Linked DNA regions of Homo sapiens. The protein of the gene in region 1 binds, or shares a complex with, the protein of each later gene. Each region holds a gene or a part of one and is shown in the gene's direction. Other genes may lie near its edges.

What was found.
Region 2: the proteins of SLC7A11 (region 1) and SLC3A2 are in contact, whole or in part, in a cryo-EM structure (PDB 7P9V), measured with the Homo sapiens proteins. Residues at the interface, in NP_055146.1 of Homo sapiens: Leu151, Phe154, Phe155, Ile156, Gln157, Cys158, Glu159, Pro161, Leu163, Ala164, Leu167, Ile168, Ala170, Val171, Thr174, Val175 (codon at 2,877), Val178 (codon at 2,886), Gln217 (codon at 6,836), Gln219 (codon at 6,842), Val360, His373, Thr487, Gln489, Ile490, Ile491, Glu493, Val494, Val495; in NP_002385.3 of Homo sapiens: Glu167, Leu170, Ala173, Trp178, Thr181, Arg182, Phe189, Trp190, Trp193, Met196, Leu197, Gly199, Ala200, Ile203, Ile204, Ala207, Arg209, Cys210, Glu212, Leu213, Lys299, Arg534, Gln559.

Annotation. Positions count from the first base shown.
Region 1 is NC_000004.12:138,217,269-138,226,198, reverse strand, and holds part of SLC7A11 (cystine/glutamate transporter), read left to right. Parts: intron 1-2,874; coding exon 2,875-3,000; intron 3,001-6,833; coding exon 6,834-6,933; intron 6,934-8,930. UniProt on the Homo sapiens protein: Heterodimer with SLC3A2, that functions as an antiporter by mediating the exchange of extracellular anionic L-cystine and intracellular L-glutamate across the cellular plasma membrane.
Region 2 is NC_000011.10:62,874,619-62,884,413, forward strand, and holds the start of SLC3A2 (amino acid transporter heavy chain SLC3A2), read left to right. Parts: upstream 1-6,277; 5' UTR 6,278-6,400; coding exon of another isoform or gene 6,401-6,405; coding exon 6,406-6,829; intron 6,830-7,080; exon of another isoform or gene 7,081-7,274; coding exon 7,275-7,448; intron 7,449-8,289; coding exon 8,290-8,381; intron 8,382-9,370; exon of another isoform or gene 9,371-9,494; intron 9,495-9,795. UniProt on the Homo sapiens protein: Acts as a chaperone that facilitates biogenesis and trafficking of functional transporters heterodimers to the plasma membrane.

The DNA of each region.
Region 1 (8,930 bases):
ACCAGCAGTGTACTAGCATCTTAATGAGAATTTTTGTTAAGCTATCTGAGAGGAAAGCAGGGTGAGATGATCAATTCATAATATCTGTTTAATTTTGTCTTCCATTTGCCTAAGAAAACTTTACAAAGTATTTTTTAAAATCCCAAATACCCAGTTTTTTTAATATTTCAATAGACATTAGGTACTTATACTCTTTATGAAAGTAACAAAACCTCTTTCTTATTTTCAAACATATAGTTAGTTGTTCCAAAAATAAGAATGCCTCTCTCTCTCTCCTTCCTTCCTCCCTGCCTGCCTCTTTTCGTTTTTATCCTTCTCCTTTCCTCTCCTTTCTTTTTCTCTCTTTCTCTCTATATAACAGTTCTTTTCTACTGTGGAAAGAACTTTCATAAATACAGAGTGCTTTGGGTTTTAGGAGCCCTATTTGAAAGAAAACACTGCCCTTTTGTTGCTGGTGGCCACATGAGACAATTTTTTCACTTTTACACCAACGTTGAACCTCCTTAATTAAAACAATAATCATTATTGTGTAATGACTCATCACACAGTCATTTGCATAGAAAAGGAAAGGAATCACTGGATGATGGAGCAGGGAGCAGAGTTACACTAACTTATTTTCCATATATAAGTGCCTTATATTGGGGAGAGATAAATAATTTTATTTTTGTGATTCCTCTGATAAAATAATGCACTTTGTCATTGACAACAGACCTGTCTATCCCTTCATGTTTTCAGCTTCCAACACAGATGAAATAACCCCCCTTAGATGCCCCTGTAGCTTATTCAGGGGTTTGGCCTTTTTGATCATTCTCATAATTACTCCTTTGAAATATTTCTTCGTTAGTAACCCTGTATTTCACTTTGTATGAGATCTTCTGATCCCTTATTTTTCCCATCTTGGAGTTTTTTCCAAAAACAAAATGTATTTTATTGCTTCATTTACTTTTGAAAATTTTTTCATCTTTATTGAGGTATATACAACAAATAAAATTGTAATTTTAGGGTGTACAATGTAATGATTTTATTTATATATATATATATATATATATATATATATATAGTGAAATTATTGTCTCAATCAAGTGAGTTAACACCTCTGTCACATCATTTAGTTACCCCTCTTTTTTTTGTTTTGTTCTGTGGTGAGAACATTTAAGTATATTTCAAGTATACAATTCAGTATTTGAAACTATAGCCACCAAAATGCTATATGTTCATCATAAAATTTATTAAACTATTCCTAAAAATAAATTTAAAAAATTGAAAATTATTTAGTGTTCTATCACTTATAAACACCTGCTGTTGATGTTTTGGTAAATATGTTTCCAGATCTATTTCTCCTTCCTTCCTTCCTTCCTTCCTTCCTTCCTTCCTTCCTTCCTTTCATCCTTCCTTCCTTCTTTTCCTTCTTCCTTCCTTCCTTCTTTCCATCCATTCCTCTAACTTGCTGTATTGATCAGTAATATATCATGAATATCCTTTCTTGTAATAAATATTTAACTGCCTCATAATTTTAAGTGGCTGCATATAAACTATTAAAATGATATACCTTAATTAGCCTTCCTTTAGGAGGTTTAGGCTATTTCCATTTTTTTGCCTTTAAAGATTATGTGTTGCTGACATTTGCATTGATTGTTAAATTCTGAAGTGAGCTAGTAACTATATCAGGCAGTGAAAACTGTGAGGCGGACTCATTACTATATATAAGGAAAACTTCCAATTTCAATTTGAATAATAAGAATTCTGTAGGAGTTTTGTTTCATTCTTTGAGAAATATCTTTACATTTTAAATATTTGTTTAGGGAGAATATACCTTTATAAATATAAAGGTTATAGTTAATAACTGTAAATGTCAGGAATAAAGTAGTGTTTTGGGTTGTTCCAAGCATAAGGTTGTGGAAAGAGTATAAAGTTGAAAACCACTGTCTAGAATAACCTCAGTCATCCCAGCAGAGTAGGGGAGAAAGGTCTTAGAGCATCACCATTTCCCTTGTGCCTTAGATTTTCTAACTGAGGATCCAGTTCATTCATTCAACAAAAATGTATTAAGTTACCTGGGCCAGGCATGGAGCTGGATACCAGCGATACAGCGATGAATAACCCTTGCTCTATCCTTGAGGTTTTCATGGTCCACAAGGTGTCGAAGGTGGATAGTTATTGCTGCTTGGGAAATTGTAGACAGCATCAGTAAGAATGAAAAATTCTTCTGGCTTTGAACCCAATGTGCATTCTAGCCTGGTTAGTCTTTTGCACTCATCACTTAGAATATTGTGCTGAAGCCCTGAAACATATCTTGAAAAACTATACTTGTACGGTGGGTTGAAAGTCGCCCCTTGACATGCTAATTAGAAAGAAGACAACCAAAAGAAAAGTGCTGCCTGAGGCTAGTCCTGAGAGTGAAAAATAAGATCTGAGCCAACTTCTACACTTCTTGCTCCTTCTTGAGTGTGATCCACATTGGCAGGCATACCATCATAGAGACAGGAAAGAGTTGTCACATCAAGCTAGACAGTGAAATTCAGCCATCTGATTGGATGCTGGGTTTGGTTAGAAGACATTTTTATGTGATTGTTAGAGTACTACAATATATGTCCACTCTTACATACAAAGAACAAGAGAAGAATTCTTATTGTCCAGAGGCTTTATCCATGTTTCTCAAACTTCAATGTGCATAAAAACCAGCTGGAGAACCTGTTGAAATGTAGATTTGTATTCATTAGGCCTGGGGCAGAGCCTGAGATTCTGCATTTCTAAAACACTTCTAAGTAATGTCAACACTGCTGCCTCACAGATTGCCCTTTGAGTAACAAGGACCTAAAATGTCTTTGTGCCAGTGAGAATTCACCTTTTGTAACTTCCTCTATTTGTTTGCAGCTGTAGTGATGGTCCTAAATAGCATGAGTGTCAGCTGGAGCGCCCGGATCCAGATTTTCTTAACCTTTTGCAAGCTCACAGCAATTCTGATAATTATAGTCCCTGGAGTTATGCAGCTAATTAAAGGTATGGACTGAAAAGCAAATGCTTTTTAAAATACGTATCTGCTTTTGGTCTTTTTTAACACTAACTTTTGCTTGTACTAACAGAATCCTTAATTAGTCTCTGCCTGTGGAACTTAAACTCTATATTGTCATCTAATTGATTTGAAAGGCTGCTACATTGTGAGTGAGTTGGTTTTTACAGTTGAATGGCAGAAAGAGGATTAAGAATGGGCCATGCAACAAAATAAGGCATCAGTGAATTTTCTAGGTTTAATGGTTTGGAGTGAAAACTCGAAGTGGAAAAAAAAAAAACCTGCCACTTAGTTTTAATTAAAGATAAATATGTCTTTTTTTTACTTTAAAATTGTCCAATAATAGTAATAAAAATTAAAGAGAAAAAGGTATCTGGAAAGTGATAAAAGATGATCAATAATTCTTTGACTTTCTGGTTATTATTCCTTTTAAATTGAGAGTGGTATCCTCAACAGAGGAGTCAATACGGGAACAGCATTCCTAAACACCAAAATTATATCACAATAAAATAGTTGTAAAAACTTAATTTTTATTGTTACATTATTTTTAATATAAAATTCGCATTTCTGCGATTACTTGCTTTATAGAGTTTAACATTTAATTTAAAAAAAGAAATTGAGAGGTGACATTTAGAGTTTTTGTTTTAGGAAAGAAGGCACATGCAGTTGCTTGGATTCAGTGGAAATTGTTGGAGGACAGAGATTCACATGTGGTATTTAATTAGCAACAGGAATATAGCAGGAAATAAAGTGAGAAGAAATTGTAAAGGAATGACATAACTTGGGCATGTTAAGTATTTAATGTTTACATTGATATTGTCTGTTCCAAGAAAGGGAATCTAGAGAAATTTAATGACGTTGCAGAAGAATTACACAAGGCAAAAGGAAATGCCAGCGTTTGGTAAAATCATCACTGTTGGTAGAAGCATTAAATAATGACAAACACTGAAGGATCAGCCACTCTGGAGCTGGGAAAGGGAGCTGCTGTTGCCCATTTAATAAGCCTAGTGGGAGATTTTAGAGCCCTGCTGGCGGAAATGCTTTTATGAAATCCAGCAACAGCAGCCAATGCAGAATAAACACAATGAAGATTTTGACCGTTAGAGCTTGCACTGAAGAGAAGACAGGAGCTTGCTCTTCTAATACACCTTGGCCTCCACAGAGCTAGCCTGCTCATTTCTATCTTATTCGTTAGGAATGTAGGCACAATAATCTGTTTTGTTAGTGCTTTATTTTTCTGAGCTAACTCTTCAGTCTTCTGTAAGGAGTTTCTTCAGTATTTGAAAAGTGCAGAATCTCTGGGTCATTGGCTGTTCTTTAATACTAGTTTAGATTCCAAAAGATTATATGCTATCCCTTGAAACTAAGATTTATTTTCTTCTTCTTTTTGGTGTAATGTAAGATACTATAGGTAGCATTATAGACTTTATTCAATTTTTACCAGGTATTTATATATGTATATGAGGAAGGGTTTGGTTGCCCAAATGTTGCTCTATTGCAAATTCCTTGAGAGCAGAGGTCATGATATATCTTGAGGTTTTTTTAGTGGCTAAAATACAGAGACACTTTAATCAATAATCATGATATCAATGCTTAATGTGACAGGCTTATTCAGAGATCTCACACAACAGAGAAATTCCCTGAGAATATTACCGCATTTAATGTAAATTTAACATTTTAGAGACCATTATTAGCAGGTATATTTGCTCGATTGCTGTAAAATTGTGATTTTCTTCATCTCTAACATGATCACACATTTTTCACATTAATCTGAAACTCTAGTAGGAGACTTTGTTAATACAGATTGTGCTTTTATTTCTATTCTAATCATATCCTGAAAGTAGTTGTATGTTATGTATTCACTTATGAGAGTTTGTTGAACTTTCCTTTGAATATTGCCTTTAATCTTCATGAGACCTCTGTTATATAGCCAAAATATTCCTGAATTCTAGAAACAAAATGCCTCTCTTTTGTAATATTCTCAAAATGGCACTTTTGAAGATCTTTGCTTGTGACCCAGTCTTTATAGAATTTGGTTTTTCTTATGGATTATTTGGTGCTGCACTCTAAGAAATATTGTGCCTTTATGCCAAAGAGACCACAGATTATGATAAAAGAATATTCAACAGATGCTTTTATCTGAATTCCACTATTTATATTTTTCTCCTGGAAGGACACAATGATGTTTTAGTAAAATGGGCATTTCTGAATTTATCATGTCATTTAAAAAGTGAGCTATGTTTGGGAATCATTTGAGAGAAAAATTGTTTAGTATATAATTCAACATTCTCCATTTTTGGTCTTCATACTCACACATATTATATTTATATATAAGTTATGCCTGGGCAATGAATGCAGGAAAAACTGAGATTTGACTTGGAAGAGAGAGTGTCTCATACACATCATCCACCCCCTGTCCCCCTTCTGTTTATTTACATGAAGTTTTATTTTAAAACAAAGTCTCACTTCCCATTTGGGTAATCTCATTTGCTATTTTCTTTGGGTAATAGAAACATTTTTTCTGCTTAAGCTTGAATATTGACTGACTAAAGTAAATCTGAATTTCTAACTTTTAAAACTATTCAAAAGATATAAAAGAAAAAGCTCCAATGTGATTCATAAAATAGAGAAAAAGGTGAAGTGTTCAATTCACATGCTGCTGCAAAATTTGTTGAAACCTATTTATTTTAGAGTTCATTATAATATCTTTTCAATATTTCTAGGAAAAAAAACATGTCATTCTCTAGGACAGGGTCACAGAGTGAGTGGACTTTCTCTGTAAAGGACAAGAGAGTAAATATTTTCAATTTTTCAAGCTAGCTGTATGGTCTCAACTCTGCTATTATAGGTTGAAATCAGCCATAGGCAATACTTCATGAATGGGTAATACTTCATGAATGGGCATTTTTAACTTATAGATAAAGAAAACTTTATCTATAAGAAAGGCTTGCAGCCAGACGCAGTGGCTCACACCTGTAATCCTAACACTTTGGGAGGCCGAGGCGGGCGGATCACAAGATCAGGAGTTCAAGACCAGCCTGGCCAACATGGTGAAACCCCATCTCTACTAAAAATATGAAAATTAGTTGGGCATGATGGCGCGCTCCTGTAATCCCAGCTACTCAGGAGGCTGAGGCTGGAGAATCACTTGAACCCAGGAGGCGGAGGTTGCAGTGAGCCAAGATTGTGCCACTGCACTCCAGCCTGGGCCACAGAGTGAGACTCCATCTTGAAAAAAATAAAAAAAGAAAGGCTTGCAGTTTGGGTTGACACACATGGTCTTCAGGATTTTCCAACTTCTCTTCTAGGAGGTAGGCATCTAATGAACAACATGGGATAAACAGAAAGCAGAAAGGTAAATTGTGTAGGAAAGGAGTCCTGGGATTTATTTCCATCTCCTCATTAAGGGTAGAACCTTGGATACCTCTCCGCATTTTCTTGCCAAGCAAAACATTATCTTTTTAAGAATTCTATCTTTTAAGAATTCTATCATATTCATAAAGATTATAATTTACAGAAAACCCTTTAGTCTTCTTTTATGGTCACAATAGAGGCATACTCAAACAGAGGATTATTTTTCAATGCCATTTTCATCTTTGTTATAAATTTATTAAAAGAGAAATATGAAATAGTGTTAATGATCAATATACTTTTGGGACCCCTTCTATAGAATGGGTACAGTATTGATAAAGATGGTAATCAACAGAGAGTAAGAAATCTAGACTTACAACAGTATGTTTCTCCGCACCCCCATGTTTCTGGTTAAGAGTGAATAAGAACCAATTCTTTGAAAAATCCTAAAATCAGTCTATTCTAATTACAGGTCAAACGCAGAACTTTAAAGACGCCTTTTCAGGAAGAGATTCAAGTATTACGCGGTTGCCACTGGCTTTTTATTATGGAATGTATGCATATGCTGGCTGGTAAGTTGATAGCTCCAGATCTGGTGGTTTGCGTAGTTCATTAATCCCATTATGCACTCAGATTAAGTGCCAAGCAAGGTGCCAGGCAAATGTGAATAGCCATAATCCAGTGTGATAGGCTTTACTTGAAATGAGAAATAAGGTATTATCCCCTCCACCAGGCCAATTACTTTGCACATGACAACTAAACATAACAGGTTTCCAGTCAAGGTGACTGCTAGATTTAGCCTGATGTCATAAAAAACAAACAAATGCTGGGTCTTAAGATCCAATAAAAATTACTTATAAGTATGTACCAGTAAGGACATAATAGTGCCGTAAGGTACTAAAGAATAATACTTCGCTTGTCAAAAGGCCTTTCAGCTAAAGCTCCAAGGGTGTTTACAAATAGTGATTAATTGATTTTTTTTTCCAGCTTCTCGTGAGAGAAGTAACTCAGATGTAGAAATAAGTATGACATTCCCAGAAGGTAAATGGTAATCTAAAGGCAGAGAAAGAGAAACCAAGATAATGCAGTCAACTCTTCTAGACAGTCTATTACATTTAAAAGGACCTTACATGTTCCTTAAAATGTCCCCAACATCTGAAAATTTAAAAAAGTGAAGATGATTAAAATCATGATGCCACAGATATATTTCCTTTGATGTATGTCCACCTGTGATACCTACCTTTCTAGTTAAGGCATTAAAACTTTGTATTTGTACCTTATTTGTTCAGATACTTGAAAAACAGTAATCATGTAATCATGGATAAGAGTGGGACTTTCTCTTCAGTAAATTTTATTGACCTTGTAAGATTTAGTTGAGATGATGGTTGCAAGAAAGCCTACAAGGTATTATTTAATTATCAAAATCATTGTAGTAAGATTAAATTTCATTGTTTTGGGATAAATCATGGCAATGTTTATTTTTTAATTATCTATAAATCTCATTGTTATACAGCTTTAGCTGTGAGAATGATCTATGAGCCTGGAAGTAATATTAGGAAACCACACTAGCTAAAAAATTATATGAATGCATTTCCAACACAAATATAATTCCTTTTGTTTTTTTAGTTTTTAAGATCTTACCTTCTAGCCGATGCATGGAATATGGATATATTTCAAAATGAATGGAGCGTTTACCCTATTAATCTCATTGAATTATGAAAATATGGTATTAGAGGATAATTAGGGGGTATGGGAACTTAAAATCTTAACATGGCCTTTGAGGCAAAATATGCTTGAAGATTGTTAGAAGATTATAGCTCTAAGGAAATCAGTGTAAAATATTTGTATATTCCCAGAATATTTTTATAACCATTATATGTAAGCATTAGTTTTGAATCACTCAGTATTTTTGAAGTCTTTTTGCTTTTGTCTGAAGCACAATGTGGTGCTAGACATCAAAAGAACTGAGCGTGATCACAGGGTTAAAGCAGAATCAACTGTTCTATGGCTATTCAGCCTGGATCAGAGCTCTGTGCCCTGGGGCTGAAGCCAAGCTACTGGGAGGGTCACTGGGAGACACCAGAGCAAAGCGGGGAGGTAGAGAAAGCTTTCAGCTACAGCCAAGTGTTGGGAGCCGGGCAATATGCAACCACGAGTGTGGAATGTGAAGATAGTCACAAGGGAGGTTTGATTAATTCTGTTGAATGAAATTTCTTTTGCCTGAGAGTACGATAGATCTGTTCCCATGCCATCTTAAAATATTCTTTTACCCTCCTCACTTTTCTAATACCCAGAACTAAAAATTCAGGTCACTTGCTTTATGTAGAGCAAAATTTCTCCGCTTATGTAGGCTTTTGAGGGCTGATGAATTTCTCCATGGATGAAGACCCTTTTCATTTTGAATTATTGTACTAATATTTAACTTTATTGATGCTGACCCCAAAATGTTTCTCTGATTACAAGGTAAAAGGGGTTTACATGAATCTTTTTTAATACTTTTACCCATATAATCCTCATGTCTACTCCCTATTTGAAAGACCAAAAACCATTGATTTCTTTATATCCTTGA
Region 2 (9,795 bases), on another chromosome or scaffold:
CATAGTAACAATTAATAGTATTCTGACATGGGTTCTTCAGATAGTAGCTGCGAAGTGAACTGCTTTAGTTGGAGTCTTTTTCTCTGCTTTAATTTCAGCCACGCTTTGACTTCCAAATGCTCAATTCCTCACCCATCTTTCCTTTTTCTTTTTCTTTTTTTTTTTTTTGGAGACAGAGTCTTGCTCTGTCACCGAGGCTGGAGTGCAGTGTAATCTCAGCTTACTGCAACCTCCGCCTCCCAGGTTGAAGGGATTCTCCTGCCTCAGCCAAGTAGCTGGGATTACAGGCACCCGCCATCGTGTGCGACTAATTTTTGTATTTTTAGTAGAGATGGGGATTTGCCATGTTGGCCAAGCTGGTCTCGAATTCCTGACTTCAAATGATCTGCCCGCCTCATTCTTCCAAAATGCTGGGATTACAGGCATGAGCCACCACACTGGCCTCATTTTTCAAATGGCTAAAATCTTCAAGATTTCTGGCTGATTGGTATTTTAGAGGCAGCTTTGATGTTTTGTTTCTGGGTCTTTGGAATAGAGTCTTGGGCTTTCGAAGATTTATGGAGGCTGTTGGACAGAGACAGTCTCCTGAAGAGTTTCTAGCTGTCCTCCCATCTTCTCTCTGCCTTTAGAAATCCTTCTTAGATGTGGCCGGGCACGGTGGCTCACGCCTGTAATCCCAGCACTTTGGGAGGCCGAGGCGAGTGGATCACGAGATCAGGAGATCAAGACCATCCTGGCTAACATGGTGAAACCCCGTCTCTACTAAAAATACACAAAAAAATCAAAATTAGCTGGGCGTGGTGGTGGGCACCTGGAGTCCGCAGGAGAATAGTGTGAACCTTGGAAGGCAGAGCTTGTAGTGAGCTGAGATCGCACCACTGTACTCCAGCCTGGGCGACAGAGCGAGACTTCATCTCAAAAAAAAAAGTCCTTCTTAGATGTTTTTAGTTGTTTGTTTATTTTTCGAGATGGAGTTTTGCTCTTGTTGCCCAGGCTGAAGTGCAATGGCACGATCTGGGCCCATTGCAACCTCTGCCTCCCAGGTTCAAGCGATTCTCCTGCCTCAGCCTCCTGAGTAGCTGGGATTACAGGCAGCCACCACCATGCCCAGCTCATTTTTGTATTTTTAGTAGAGATGGGGTTTCACCACGTTGGCCAGGCTGGTCTCAAACTCCTGACCTCAGGTGATCCGCCCGCCTCAGCCTCTCAAAGTGCTGGGATTGCAGGCATGAGCCACTGCGCCCAGCCTGTTTGTTTGTTTTCAGATAGGGTCACCCTGTCAGCCAGGCTGGAATGCAATGGTGTGATTGTGATCACAGCTCACTGCTGCCTCAACCTGAGGGCTCAAGTGATCCTCCCACTTCAGCCTCCTTAGTAACTGGGACCACAGGGGTGAGCCACCATGCCTGGCTAATTTGTTAATTTTTGTAGAGATGGGGTCTCCCTATGTTGCCGAGGCTGGTCTCAAACTACTGGGCTTAAGTGATCCTCCTGCCTTAGCTTCCCAGAGCGCTGGGATTAAAGGCATGAGCTGCTGTGCCTGGTCAATCCTTTTTACATGTTTGAGGAAAAATAAATGTCCTGTTTTCAGGCTAAGATCAAGTAATAATCCTCATGTGTTAGGAAGCATGTGACATGGATTTTTGCAGCAGAGGGTTAGAAAGGAACTTTCTTTATATACTTGGCCCCCTGCATTTCAGGGCTCCACCGCCATCTGTCTGTCTGAGTGTAAAGTGGACCTTATTGGCATCTGGGCTGCCAAACTGCTTTTTTTCCTTTGCTTTGCCCAGCCTTCTCTTGAAGGCTAAATTCTTGAAAAATTATATTCTTTGTGTTCCTATAGTAAATATTAAGCTTTATATCAACACATATGGCAGGATCTGAGGCTCTTTACTCACCTCTGGTCCATTTCTCTAGTCTTTTCTCTGTAGTCTTTTTGTTTTCCTGTCCTCCATCTCCTAATTTATTAGTTTTATTATTATATTTTATATTATTTTTTTGAGACAGAGTTTTGCTCTTGTTGCCCAGGCTGGAGTGCAATGGCGCGATCTTGGCTCACTGCAATCCCTGCCTCATGGGTTCAAGTGATTTGTCTGCCACAGCCTCCTGAGTAGCTGAAATTACAGGCACGCACCACCATACCTGGCTAATTTTTGTATTTTTAGTAGAAACGGGGTTTCACCATGTTAGCCAGGCTGATATTGAATTCCTGACCTCAATTGATCCGACTGCCTCGGCCTCCGGAAGTGCTGGGATTACAGGTGAGCCACAGTGCCTGGCAGTTTGTTTTATTTTGGTTGAACAGTTACAAGTCTTGGTTTGTTTTCCTGCAGCAACAGGTTTATCTTGATATGATACAGCGTTATTTAAATTCCTTTTCATTTTCCTGCCTTTGTCTTCACATGCTAGTTTTTTTCAGTTGTTTCTTTTTTCTTCTTCCTTTTCTTTTTTTTTTTTTTTGAGAGATAGTCTTGCTGTGTTGTCCAGGTTGCAGTACAGTGGTGCGATCTGGGCTCACTGCAACCTCTGCCTCCTGGGTTCAAGTGATTCTCTCACCTCAGCCTCCGGAGTAGCTGGGATTACAGGTGCCCACCACCACGCCTGGCTAATTTTTGTATTTTTAGTAGAGACAGCGTTTCACCATGTTGGCCAGGCTGGTCTTGAACTCCTGACCTCAATTGATCTGCCTGCCTTGGTCTCCCAAAGTGCTGATTACAGGTGTGATCCACCGTGCCTAGCCTGTTTAGTTGTTTCTAAGAAGGGAGATATTGGTTTTGATTGACATAGTTCATCCACTTATTTACCAAACACTTGCGAAGTGCCTACTATATGCTGCCTCCGAATAGGCAGGTTCGTCCACAATAGCACAAGGCTCCTGCCACTTGTCTTCAAGGACAAAGAGACATCCAGACAAACAAATGTAATAAACAAATGGGACATGATTGTAGCAGAGGCAGATGCATGGTGGAGGGAAAGTAATTTTGTCTGGGGAGTTGAGAAAAGCTGTCACTTGAGCTAGATCTTGAATGAATAGGAACTCATGAGGTTGAGTGGACAAACAGGAAGGGCCAACAGCAGAGGTATGGCATGTACAAGATGCAGAGCTCTGCCTGAAAAAGCCTGGTGTGTTGTGAGTCTGGCAGGTGTTTGAAGGCTGATGTGGCTGGAGGCTAGTGCCTGTGAAGCAGGTGGTGGCTGATAAGATTGGAGAGGCAAGCTGTTATCCTCTTTATGCATGCAGAAGGAATTGACTTCAGGCTGGGCACAGTGGCTCATGCCTGTAATCCCAGCACTTTGGGAGGCTGAGGCGGGCAGATCACCTGAAGTTAGGAGTTCAAGACCAGCCTGGCCAACATGGTGAAACCCTGTCTCTCCTAAAAATACAAAATTAGCCGGGTGTGGCGGTGCACGCCTCCTATAATCTCAACTACTGGGGAGGCTCAGGAAGAAGAATCGCTTGAACCTGAGAGGCACAGGTTGCAGTGAGCTGAGATCGCGCCACTGCACTCCATGCTGGGTGACAGTGTGAGACCCTGTCTCAAAAAAAAAAAAACAAAAAACAAAAGGAATTGACTTCAGCCATTTGGAGCCATGAGGATCTGTGAGTGAGATACTGTGTCATGTTGGACCATCTCAAAGACAGCTTCTGACCCCACAGTTCTCAACCTTGTTCTTACTTATTTTTAGAGACAGGGTCTCGCTCTGTCTCCTAGGCTGGTATGCAGTGGTGCCACCATGGCTCACTGCAGCCTCACAAACTCCTGGACTCAAGTGATCCTCCTGCTTTTGCTTCCCTTGAGTGTTGGCATCTCATGGGACTCCAGGGGCACATCACCAATTACAGATGATAATTTTTTTTTTTTTTGAGACGGAGTCTTGCTCTGTATCCCAGGCTGGAGTGCAGTGGCGCGATTTTGGCTCACTGCAAGCTCCGCCTCCCAGGTTCACGTCATTCTCCTGCCTCAGCCTCCTAAGTAGCTGGGACTACAGGCACCCGCCACCACGCCTGGCTGATTTTTTTTTTTTTTTTTTGCATTTTTAGTAGAGACGGGGTTTCACTGTGTTAGCCAGGATGGTCTCGGTCTCCTGACCTCTTGATCCACCTGCCTCGGCCTCCCAAAGTGCTGGTATTACAGGTGTGAGACACCACGCCTGGCCTTTTTTTTTCTTTTTTGAGACAGAGTCTCACTCTGTCACCCAGGCTGGAGTGCAGCCGCGCAATCTTGGCTCACTGCAACCTCTGCCTCTCGGGTTCAAGCGATTCTCATGCCTCACCCCTCCAAGTCTGGGACTACAGGCGTGTGCTACTATGTCCAGTTAATTTTTGTATTTTTAGTAGAGATGGGGTTTCACCATGTTGGCCAGGCTGGTCACGAACTCCTGACCTCAAGTTATCCGCCACCCTCAGCCTCCCAAAGTGCTGGGATTACAGGTGTCAGCCACCACACCTGGCCTGTTAGTTTTTTTGAGGCAGAGTCTTGCTCTATCACCCAGACTGGAGTGCAGTGGCCCATTCTTGGCTCACTGCAACCTCTACCTCCTGGGTTCAAGCGATTCTCATGCCACAGCATGAGAAGTGGGATTACAGGGATTAGTAGGTGGGATTACAGGTGTGAGCCACCACACCCAGCCAGGCCCAGATAATTTTAAAATTTATTTTTTTATTTATTTAGAAATGGAGTCTCACTATGTTGCCCCGTCTGGTCTTAAACTCCTGGCCTCAAGGAATCCTCCCTCCTTGGCCTCCTAAAGGGCTAGGTGACAGGCATGAGTCACACTGCGCCCAGCCTTGAGCTTTTGTGCTCGAGATATAGTCCATTCAGAACCTCTGGTTGGCACTTCTTATCTGGCACATGCAGGGCACCTTGGATCTCTTATTATCTTTGAGCACTGGTCTGAACCCACTTGCTTGCCTTCTCCCAGGGGCTGCCCCGTGCACCCCTTGTTCCTAGGGTGGGGATGGGGTTGGATGCCTGGGGTTGCAGAGGGGACTAGCAGAGGGTGACCCTTTTCTCTATGCTATTACTTCAGATCTTGGCTTTTGCTTTCTTCCAAATACACAGCAATCTTGGCTTCCAGCCTAGGTGGGAAAGGGAGAAAGAACCGATTTCCTCCAGCTCCTCTCTGAAAGTAGCCCAACTGGCACTGTTTAGGAACAAGGAGTTCCTGAGAGTGTTGGCACCCCACGGTGTTGATGTCCGGTAGTTCCCTGCTGTGAACCCTGTCTCTGCCCCACTTCAATCCAAGGACCCTGTGGAGGGAATTCTAGGCTTCTTCAAAGCCTCTGCAGTACCAGCTGCCTCCAAGGCCTAACATAGTGAAGTGATAGGGAGACAGGACCTTGGGGGAGTTTGGGGATAACTGTGGGAGTTCCTGCAAGGTGGGTAAGAGTCTGGCCATGGCATCTTCTGGTCTATTCCACAAAAAAGGTGGATGCCTCTGAGACCTAGCTCTGTTATGTTCATTACAGCCCTATCAGTCTCTTCTGGATGTCTGATTCCTAGCTGCCAAACATCCAGGTGCTAGCAGCTGGGGGTGGGGTAGGATAAGAAGGGGGGTGTCTACCTCAACCTTCCTGCCCAAACCATTCATTTTAAAGTACTGTGAAGAAGGCTGGATTAGTGTTAAATTCAATAAAGTTAACAAAGCAAAGTATTGTAGTGAGTACACAATAAATAGTTGCTGCATGAGGAATTTCTTGAAATGAATTCAAGATGAGTCTTGAAAAACGAGTGGGAGTAAGCCGTGCACGGAAGCAGAGGTCTAGCAGAGGTCTAGCGCCAAGTCCCAGAGGCCTGAGAGGGCAAGCCTTGGTGGGGGAAAAGGCAGAAGTTGTGACTGGCTGCCTCTGAGAGTGCAAGTAGCCATGCAAAGTTGGGAAAACCAGACGGCGGCCGGAGCCGTGAACCAGGGGCAAATGGAGGATGGTGTTGGGGTAGTCACTAGCCTGCCGGAATGGAAGAAGAGGGGCGTTTGGGGGCGGTAAGGCCTAAAGGACACTGGAGGGGCCTCGGGATTTGGGGCAGGATCACAGGCCTAGTCCACTTAAAGGTGGCTCCGTGCCAGGCCTTCCCAGAATCAGGTTGAAAAGAACTTTAGGGTTAGACAGGTTGGAGATGAGAAATTGGACCATGCAGGAAGTACTGTCGGAGGCGTGTTCCTGACTTTACTACCCTGAGCCGCCCACGGCTGGGGCAGTCCCCGAGGTTCCACCTTAAGGGGCGGGCCGGGGCGGGGCTCCGCTGCCCCTTCCCAGAGGCCGCGCCTGCTGCTGAGCAGATGCAGTAGCCGAAACTGCGCGGAGGCACAGAGGCCGGGGAGAGCGTTCTGGGTCCGAGGGTCCAGGTAGGGGTTGAGCCACCATCTGACCGCAAGCTGCGTCGTGTCGCCGGTTCTGCAGGCACCATGAGCCAGGACACCGAGGTGGATATGAAGGAGGTGGAGCTGAATGAGTTAGAGCCCGAGAAGCAGCCGATGAACGCGGCGTCTGGGGCGGCCATGTCCCTGGCGGGAGCCGAGAAGAATGGTCTGGTGAAGATCAAGGTGGCGGAAGACGAGGCGGAGGCGGCAGCCGCGGCTAAGTTCACGGGCCTGTCCAAGGAGGAGCTGCTGAAGGTGGCAGGCAGCCCCGGCTGGGTACGCACCCGCTGGGCACTGCTGCTGCTCTTCTGGCTCGGCTGGCTCGGCATGCTTGCTGGTGCCGTGGTCATAATCGTGCGAGCGCCGCGTTGTCGCGAGCTACCGGCGCAGAAGTGGTGGCACACGGGCGCCCTCTACCGCATCGGCGACCTTCAGGCCTTCCAGGGCCACGGCGCGGGCAACCTGGCGGGTGAGTGCAGCGCGCCCCCGTCCCGGGTACCTCCGGTTGAATCTGGTGGCTTGCACCGACCCCCTCCCCTGTCCCCAGACGGATCTAGATGGTTCTTCCCTCCATCCCGTACCGACGACTGTTCCCCCTTCCCCCACCCCCTCCCCGGCACATTGTCCTTCCCTCCTTTCTTTGAAGAAAGCCGACCCGCCCCTCACTCCGTCACGAGGGTGGGTGACTCAGCGTCCTCCTTCCCCGCGGCGCCAGAAGCCAGTTGCAACCGGTTTCTGAAGTAATGTGCAGGACTCCTTACATCAGCTCCTCTGAGTCTCGTGATTCAGCCTTGCCTCCCTCTCTCCCCCTTTGCCCCCTCCCCGTCCCACCCTTAGGCGCTGGGAGAAGGGAGGGTGGGGAGGTCAGGGGCCTCTCAGAGGGGCCTCACTTGTTAACCCAGCCCCCATTTCAGGTCTGAAGGGGCGTCTCGATTACCTGAGCTCTCTGAAGGTGAAGGGCCTTGTGCTGGGTCCAATTCACAAGAACCAGAAGGATGATGTCGCTCAGACTGACTTGCTGCAGATCGACCCCAATTTTGGCTCCAAGGAAGATTTTGACAGTCTCTTGCAATCGGCTAAAAAAAAGAGTGGGTATCCTGGGGTTCCCAAGGAAACAGCTAGAAAGGACTTGGCCAGAGGAAAAGTAGGCTAGAACTTTTGTCTGGTTTCCTGCTAACTGGCTCTGAGTTTTCCTAGGGCAGGTAGAGGGGAGATTTGTTAGTCTTCAGCCTAAAATGGATTTGTCCAGTCGTCTGGGGGCTTTCTACTTGGCTGTGGAATCTTGAGCAGGTCATTTAACTTCTGGGCTTCAGTGCCCTTATTTGCAAAATATAGATATTTACTAAACCAGTGGTTTTAAACTTGTAAAACAGTAGGTTTTTTTGGGGGGGGGGAATCCCAAATATTGTTTTACGACTCGATATAGACACATGTTTAAAAAGGTTCACTTTGGGAGTGGGGAACACAGGGGCCACTTCTCTGCACTATAAACTTTCTGCCTTCCAATATCTTTTTTTTTTTTTGAGATGGAGTCTCACTCTTGTCACCCAGGCTGCAGTGCAGTGGAACGATCTCAGCTTACTGCAGCCTCCTCCCCCAGGGTTCAAGCGATTCTCGTGCCTCAGCCTCCTGAGTAGCTGGTACTACAGCCGTGTGCCACCACACCCAGATAATTTTTTTATTTTTAGTAGAGACAATTTTCAACATGTTGACCGGTCTGGTTTTGAACTCGCCTGGCCTGCCTTCCCATATCTTAAGGCCCTTCCTTGCTCACATCTGTTTCAATGGAATGAATTTTGCCCGGGTTCAAATTCAAGCTTTTGTACCAAGTAATACATAGGAAACACTCAGTGACTTGCATTTGTGATTTCCTTATTTTCCCTTAACTCATAGACTGTCTCATGATTGCGTCTTCCTCCGTTGTTTTAGGCATCCGTGTCATTCTGGACCTTACTCCCAACTACCGGGGTGAGAACTCGTGGTTCTCCACTCAGGTTGACACTGTGGCCACCAAGGTGAAGGTGAGTGTTGGAGCTGATGGCTGGTGGAAGTCAGATGCTGGGGCTGGGACAGTCCTTTCACAGCAAGCCCTGTAGACCCAGCCTGACTCCAGCTGAGGGTCCCTTTGCTCCTTAGGACCAAGGAGGAATGCCTCCTCCTATAGCCAAAGGATAGGCCAATAGCACACCTGTTTTTCTTGTTCCTTTTCTGACCTCTTATTTTTCTTATTTCCTTGACTCTGAGGATGAGACAGTGCCAGGAAGGGACCTTCTCAGAAGTCAGTCTGGAAGTTTGATTTTTCTTTCTTTTGGGAGAGGAAGCCCTTTCTCTGTGAGAATCCTGTCCTGACTGGTTTCCCAGTTCTTGTTTGATGTGTTTGGAATAGAGCCCAGTCTGAAATTATAAGCACTGGGGTACTCCTATGTGTCTGGGACTCTATGCCAAGTATTTTATAGATGTTTTCTAATTCTCTGTATAACCATACAAGGTATATAATTTGCCATAGGTTCAAATGTGTACCCAGCAGGCTAGGAGTAGGGCTTTGAATGTCACCTAGCTCCTGATGTCTGGGTCCTAGGACACTGACCTGTTCAGAATGGGTAGAACAAAAATGGAAGCAGATACTGACACTGCTGGTAGCTGTGATTCTAAGATAGAATTCTGGACTCCCAGCATTTGGGTAGGACCCCGGGATCATCCAGTTTAGGCCTTGCCAGTTACTAGGGGACCCTTTAAAAGTTGCTGATGAGGGAATGTTTTTGGATGGTTTGGCATGAGGGGCGGTACCCTCAGATGGAAATGGAGACCAGAGGAGAGAGTACATGGCCCAGAGAAAGGGAAGAAAAGGAGAATGGGGGTGAAGTTCCACAGTGTGTGCAGGACTGCCAGGATTCCATTCAGCAGCACTGGCCTCTTTTCAAATCTAAACTGCCCTGGGGCTATGCTTTGAATTTCAATCTTTCATCCTTGGCCTTGCTCTGAGCAGTTATTGTACTCACACCTTCCCCAGGCCTCAGGAAACTGGGAGAGGGGGGATCTTGACTGACATTTTAGATCCTGTCTGCTGCTCACTGATTATGACTGTGGACGCGTCTCCCTGCTTCTCTGGGTCTGTTTCTTCATCTCTAAAATAGGTATGCTAACATTCCAATGCTAAGTGTTAAACGAAGTTATGTTTATGGACATACCTTTTCTCTGGGGCCTTTTCTGTGGCTTTCAAAGTTGAAGCTGTGTGATTTGCCAGAGGCAAGAATGAGAAGTAAAATGCTGTAGCACTAAGAAAATGAGTGGAAGGGTAGAGCTGGAGGGGTCCAAAGGCTAAGCCTTTGTAGTGCAGGTGGGGAAGACCCAGGCAAGGCACAGGACTCTCCCCAGCTCCCGGGGAAGTGTGTGGTGGGTGAGGTTTAGTGTGGGCTGGAATTTTCTGAGCCTTTT